2 linked regions of the Homo sapiens genome follow. The protein of the gene in region 2 interacts with the protein of the main gene of each other region in a pairwise test. Each region holds a gene or a part of one and is shown on either strand. Other genes may lie near its edges.

Region 1 (3,927 bases), on a different chromosome or scaffold from region 2:
AAAGTTTTCCTCTAACCTAAGGAAGTACCTCTACCCTCATACACTCAGAACTGTTCCTGCTTACCATTCCTTTGTGGTTTCCCAGCTTCCTGCTCCAGCTGGGTCTTTTTGGGATGGAGCTGGACAGTCAGTGATTCATATGGCCTTCCCAAGGGGGCCAACTTGTCCATGAGTATGTCCCGTCTTTCTGAATTGCCTGGGACCTAGGGAAAATGAGGTGTGTAAGGTGAATTTTATGGAAACTTAAGTAACTTCAGATAAAACAATCAAATGAAACATCTTCCAGGGACATAGAAAGGGGGGACAAATTCTCATTTCATTGTAAATGGCAATAATGGCTAGGAGAAGGAACAGAGGCTAATCTCTACAATTCAGGACACTAGAGAGTAAAATTCAACGTCTCTTCTTTCATTGATCTGCAGAAGTCCAGGATCAGAGCACTGGGATTTGGAAGGTAGCTTAAAAATCATCTAGCCCAACTTCCAGCAAATGGGAGCATTTCTTCTATAACCATGCTATCCGATATGGTAGTCACTAGCAAAATGTGGTTACTGAGTACTTAAAATATGGCTAGTACAAATGAGATAAGCTAAATGTAAGATACATACCAAATTTTGAAAATTTAAAGCACAGATATCTAAAATACCTCATTAAAAATATTGATTACATGATTAAATATTGTGGGCTAAATAAAATATATATTTCACCTTTTTTTTTAATGTGGCTACTAGAAAATTTAAATACATATACAGCTTGCATTATATTTCTGTTGGACAGTCCTATTCTGCAATATCCTTGACATCTACTTGAATCTCCGCTTGAATACCTATATGGAAAGGGAGTTTCTTATGGGGTAGCCTATTTTATTTATGGGTATCTATGAATGGCAGAAAATTATTTCTTTTCCTCTGATACCTGATTGCCTTTTGGTAACTTCCCACTGATCCTAGCCTTCCAAACAGGCATAGAATCAGTCTAGTGACTCTCCTCTCTTTACCCAGCCACACTTTAATTATTTGACATAGGTAGTCAGGTCCCTTCCTATGCCTTGTTCTTTAGAGGATAAATATTTTCAGATGTTCTTTCATATGCCTTTTGCTTTGGCTCCATCCATATCCCCTGATCACTCACAGCCAGATGACTGCCCCTTCACACCTGCTTTCCAGGTTCATCAAGCTCTCTCTCCAGATCCTCCAGTACCGTCACTGCCTCCTCTCCAGTCTCTGGATGGTGTGCACGCACCCATGCTTGCAGGTCTTTAGGAAGAATGCTCAGGAACTGTTCTAGCACCAGCAGGTCTAAAATCTGCTCCTTGGTGTGGCATTCTGGCCTCAGCCACTGACGGCAGAGCTCCCACAGCTGGGTAAGAGCTTCACGGGGTCCAGGTGCATCCTGATAGCAGAGCTTCCTGAAGTGTTGTCTATAGAGTTCCCTCCTGTGAGGACTGCACTTTTGTGAGCTGGAATCCTGTCCCCAGTAATGGTCCTCTGCCTTAATTATCAGAAGTCCTTTTTGGTCCTCAGGTTCCAGGGCTGTGGTCATTCTGGGCTTTGCCAGGAGATTTATCCTCTATCTGGGATTGAGTCAAAGAGAATCTCTTAGAATCCTGCCTCAGAGACACTCCTAAGGCATAAAAAGTTGTTACCATAGAGAAATTACAAAAATTTCTGTGAACATAAACACATCATAATGAAGCCAAGCCACCAGAAGTCAATCAGAGAAAACAGTCTTATAGGAAGCTGAAACAAAACAAAACAAAACAAAACAAAAAACAGTGACGCAGGGATATGATTTGAATCTGTGCTCTATTGTGTAACTTAGAGGAAGTTATTTATCTGGACTAGAACTACAGATCCTCAGGTACAATTCTCATGTGTGTTACAGGGTTGATATACAGATTACATGAGAACGTATGCAACGTCCCTGGCATGGCAGCGGGCACTAGTAAGCACTAAATAAACGCCAAGTATTATTAACGGCTTTGTTAAAAGGCTCTTCATTCTGTTACCATGAGATGCACGGGCCAGCTTGTGCCCCCAGGATTCACTGGTTATAGGATATGTGTGCCAACCCTGGAAGGGGATCAGACAGATGCCTCTGCAGAGGAACCCGCAACCAGTGTCCCCCTTCCACCCATCCTCTCCCGGAAGGCTGGGCCAAATCCTCTCCTGTAGATCTGTTGGGGGGCGGAGGGAGGGACAGGAGTGTTACACTCTGCCCGCGACAGGGAGGTGTGGGGAGGGTGTTGCTGCTGACCACAGCTGCGTCTTGTCCCCTTTTCTCCACCTGGGAGCCGGGAGACACTCACCTTACGCGCAGGGAGGAACAGGTGCAACAGCTAGCGTCCTTTGGACAGCCCCGAACAAAGACTAGACTCAAAGACACCAATCGGCGCCCGGCCGCTTCAGCCGGGCACTTCCGGGCCGCTCTAGGAAGCTTCGCCTCTGTGGCAGCTTGAGTGCTTGCCTCCTCGGCCCTAGCCAGTGGAGGACCCGGCTTTTACGCCTCGTATTGATGGGATTGCGGGATCTGCGAGCAAGTCTTATTTGTACTTCTTTAAAACGTTTTTCGGTTTAATTATTGAGTAATATGGATAAGTAATGCATTCACATACATTTATTAAAAAGAGTAAATGTCCCCCAGCGTCTAGTTTGACAATATTTTTCGTGACTTGTATATCCTTCCGTAGATATATTACACCGTTATAGATTGTCCGCGCTTTTTCCCCTCTGCACAAATAGTAGCACTTCTGTACCTTTCTTATTTTTCTTTTTACCAGGTGGTCTTGGTAAAGGCTGTACATAAGTGTTTCCTTGATCTTGCTCTTTTTTAAACAACTGCACGGTATTCAACTGTGTATTATGTTCTATAATTTGTTAATAAGTACCCCATTGGTGGTCATGAGGTTGTTTCCAATTCTTCTTTTTCAAACATTGCTGCAATAACTTACTGTGAACTCACATCATTTTTCATGTGTAAGGATATATCCATAGTCTGTATGTCTAGAAAGGGAATTACTACAGCATAGAATAGGGAAATTTGTACTTTTGTTAATGCCAAATCACCAATCATAGGATCTACTAGCAGTATTCTTATTTACCTATACTTGTCAACACAGTGTTATAAAATATTTTGATCTTTGCCAAATTGATGGGTGAAAAATGCTCTTAGTTTTTTACTCCCTCTTCTCCTTTCTTACACAAATATTGATTTATCTACTATGCCAGGCACTATTGTGGAAGCTGGAACTAATTTTGAGCAAAACAATGCCCTTCCTTTCATGGAATTTATAATCTTGTGTGTGTGTGTATGTGTGTGTGTGTGTGTGTGTGTGCTGGGGAGGCAGGCAATAAACCAAAAAATATACATAGTGTATAGAGAGTGGATATCAGTTCTAAGGAGAAAATAAAGGAAATAGGGAATTTGGGGTGAGAATGAAGTGATGCAATTTAAATAGGATATTCATGGAGGACCTGACTAGGAAATTGACATTTGAGCAAAGATTGAGGGAGCTGAGGGAATGGGCCATCAGGGATAAAGATGTTTCAGGGAGAGGGATAACAAATGCAAAAGCCTGGAGTGGAGTGTGTTTTAAGTATTTTGGGCAAAGGAAGGGTGCTTGTTTTTCTGGAGCTGAGTGAGCAAAAGAGCGTTGGGTGGAGAGATAGTGAGAGCCTTGGGTGAGTGCAAGGGTATTTTTACTCTAAAATGATAAAATGATAAGCTACTCAGTTTATTTTCTTTTCTCTTTTCTTTCCTTTTCCTTTGTTTTAGGAGATGGGTCTCACTCTGTCACCCAGACTGGAGTGCAGTGAGTGGTGCGATCATAGCTTACTGCAGCCTGAAACTCCTGGGCTCAAGTGATCTTCTCGCCTCAGCCTCCTGAGTAGCTGGAGCTACAGGTGTGAGCTACCCAGCATGGCTCAT
Region 2 (2,841 bases):
TCTACCAAAATTACAAAAATTAGCTGGGTATGGTGGCGAGCACCTGCAATCCCAGCTACCTGGGAGGCTGAGGCAGGAGAATCCCTTGAACCTGGGAGGCAGAGGTTGCAGTGAGCTGAGATCGCACCTCTGCACTCCAATCTGGGCAACAGAGCGAGCATCTGCCTCAAAAAACAAATAAAACAAAAACAAAAACAGATAATACTGATGTTATTTCCAGAAAATCCCCTGGTACTCTCATGCCAGGCAATACAGTTATAACATCACAAGCTAACACAATAAAGTGTAAATGTCACTGAGCCGATTCCAGGAAGCTGCTCAGGAACGGACCCCATTTAATTAAAAAGAAATGTCAAATATAAAAACAATTCAGAGAACATATGAAAGTTGGGCATGGCCTGTGTTTCTCTCTGAACATCCAACAGAATGGAAGTTGACTTAACACAGTAAAGATGTTCCTGTGTCTGAGAAGTTGCTGAAATCAGTTCCCCAATGAAATGCAGGGCCTACCCATGATCTGAGGGCTGGAGGGTTTGCAGGCGTGTTTTAAGGAGATCCAGAGGTTGGAAAAGGAGGGTAGAGCAGGTCCCACTGATGGAGCCACACAGGAAAGCCTTGATCACCGGATGTAACTGCAGGATAAGACAATATTGTGTCAGTAGCTCTGCCTGTGTGAGCCTCACCTTTCTCTATACCTGACCAGCAAATTCCTTTATAATGGTCTCTTAGACACTTACCTGGTGGTGCCTCATGTTTTCTTCATACCTCGGAGAAGGAAAAAGTATAGCCAGAAATTAAAAATACTGCAATGTTATTGAGGACATTGGATGCTGCAAGAGGTATCTCTGGTCTTCGTATTGCTGATAGACATATTGCTCAGTGGGAGCAAAACTATTTCCATGCCACTGACCACTCTTCCCTATTTGTTCTGACTCAAAAAGTTACTGGTCATCTCCCTATCTTTGCAAAAGCAAAGTCAATTGAATGCAGTGCTTTCACTTTGAACTGATGATGTGCAGACTCCCTTCGCTCTAAGACCTATAGGTATTTATAGGACCAAGCCAAAGCAAATGAAACCTTAAGCTCAACCACTGTGTAAAATGTAAGTGCCACTTCCTGTAGAACCTAGTATTTCCTTCATTTAAAACTTTCCCCTTACCATCTCACTGGGCCCTAAGCAGATCACACAGTCCTACAGACCAGTAGCCTCCCCTGGCTTTGCTGCTTCTCCTTCAACCCATGAACCGTCATATACACTGGCTAATCTACAGACACCACCTGGAAGGGTGGAACTCCTTCAAAGACTAAATATACCTCCCTTAGTTCCAGGAGCTGCAGCTTCCAGCACTGGTGCTATCATTACAGGACAGCATCCTTTCTCCAGACCCCTAGAACCCAGTAGTATCACAAATGACTGTGAAAAGGTACTTAAAATCCAACCAGTGACCTTCTTCCCCTTCCCTAAAATAAATAAATAAATAAATAAACAAATAGCTATCTTCTCCAAAAATGTTTGGCAAATTCATCCCCAAAGACCTCTTCCCTTATTAAGTGGCATTTGCACTATTATTTTTTAAATAAATGACACATTGTGGCCCTAAAACATTAAGATGAATATATATAAAGTTTCCATTACACATCACATAACTACTTACCTGGAACTGAAATATTTGTAATCTGCAGTATTTGCTTAACAGAGAAGAGAGTGTATCTCAAATTCCACCAAAGAAGCCAGTTATAACTGGAATTCCTCATAAGACTGTTGGAGGCAGGGGGTGGGGGGAACTAAGGTCATTAAAAACTGGAGTTTACAACCACGATGCAATAACTTCTGAAGTACCAAAGGGTGGTCTGATAAGACAACAGGTAAAACCAAGTAAGGTGTGCGTATTTTAGCAAGTCTGTATCTACATCAACTCCCTCTCCCCAAGAGGTGTCCTGCTCTTCTGCCAACCAATATTCTCATGAGTTCTGTGTTTCTAGTCTCTCCCCAAGACTTTGTGGCATTAATGAGCCCCCCTTCTTCACACACTGGGTCTCTCGCTCCCACTGGCATCTCCTCTTCTGCCAGGCAACAGGCTCCAAAGCATCCATCTTTCCAGCCTGACGCTACACCATCTCCACTTGCTCTGTGCCAGTCCCTCCGCAGGCCCCCCCAGTTTGCTATCCAGCTAAATCTCCTCCACTAACACAGCCTCTGAGGGCTCACCAAGCACCTGCTGCACCCCAGGACCCCGTTCCTGTCCCTGCCCTTATCTTACTTGGCCTCTCTGGTACATGCCATATAGCTGAGTGCCTCTCCTCACAGTTTCTGGTTTCTCTCTCCTTCTCTTCTTTGGCCTGCCCTTCACATAGGACTGCTCCTCTTATCTCCTTTCAGAGTAACCTCACCCATATCCAGGCTTCACACACATGCTGGTAATGCCCACATCTCCAGCCCAGGCTGGCCTCTCCCCAGACTCTGCTAATGTCTCCTTGTCTTCCCTCAAATGGCCCACAGGCATCTCAAATTCAACATGTCCAAAATGGAAACTTGGTCAACAGTTCTCCACACACTTGCCTCTTCTCCAATCCACACTGGGATACTCCAGGAATCCAGGTTGGAAACCTCAGAGACACATAAAACTCACCATGCCTGCTGCTACATGACCAAGTCCCACTGACCAAGCCCTCAATCTTCCCAGTCTGGCCTCCACTGATCCATCCTAATGACCTCTGCAGCAGTCTCCAGCCTCAACTATGCCAACCCACCCTCCACTCTGCTCCCAGAGTAGCACTGGGCGAGGCATCTATAGACACCACCTCAAAATCTCATAGCATCTTATGAGCTAGGTATTTTAA

What was found.
Region 1: the proteins of SLC25A38 (region 2) and ZSCAN16 interact in a two-hybrid assay, tested with the Homo sapiens proteins (one large-scale study listed by BioGRID and IntAct).

Annotation. Positions count from the first base shown.
Region 1 is NC_000006.12:28,123,059-28,126,985, reverse strand, and holds the start of ZSCAN16 (zinc finger and SCAN domain-containing protein 16), read right to left. Parts: upstream 2,378-3,927; 5' UTR 2,309-2,377; intron 1,740-2,308; exon of another isoform or gene 1,574-1,739; 5' UTR 1,543-1,573; coding exon 1,156-1,542; intron 204-1,155; coding exon 65-203; coding exon of another isoform or gene 45-64; exon of another isoform or gene 1-44. UniProt on the Homo sapiens protein: May be involved in transcriptional regulation.
Region 2 is NC_000003.12:39,387,286-39,390,126, reverse strand, and holds part of SLC25A38 (mitochondrial glycine transporter), read right to left. Parts: exon of another isoform or gene 2,285-2,841; coding exon of another isoform or gene 2,262-2,284; exon of another isoform or gene 766-2,261; coding exon of another isoform or gene 738-765; intron 633-737; coding exon 511-632; intron 1-510. UniProt on the Homo sapiens protein: Mitochondrial glycine transporter that imports glycine into the mitochondrial matrix.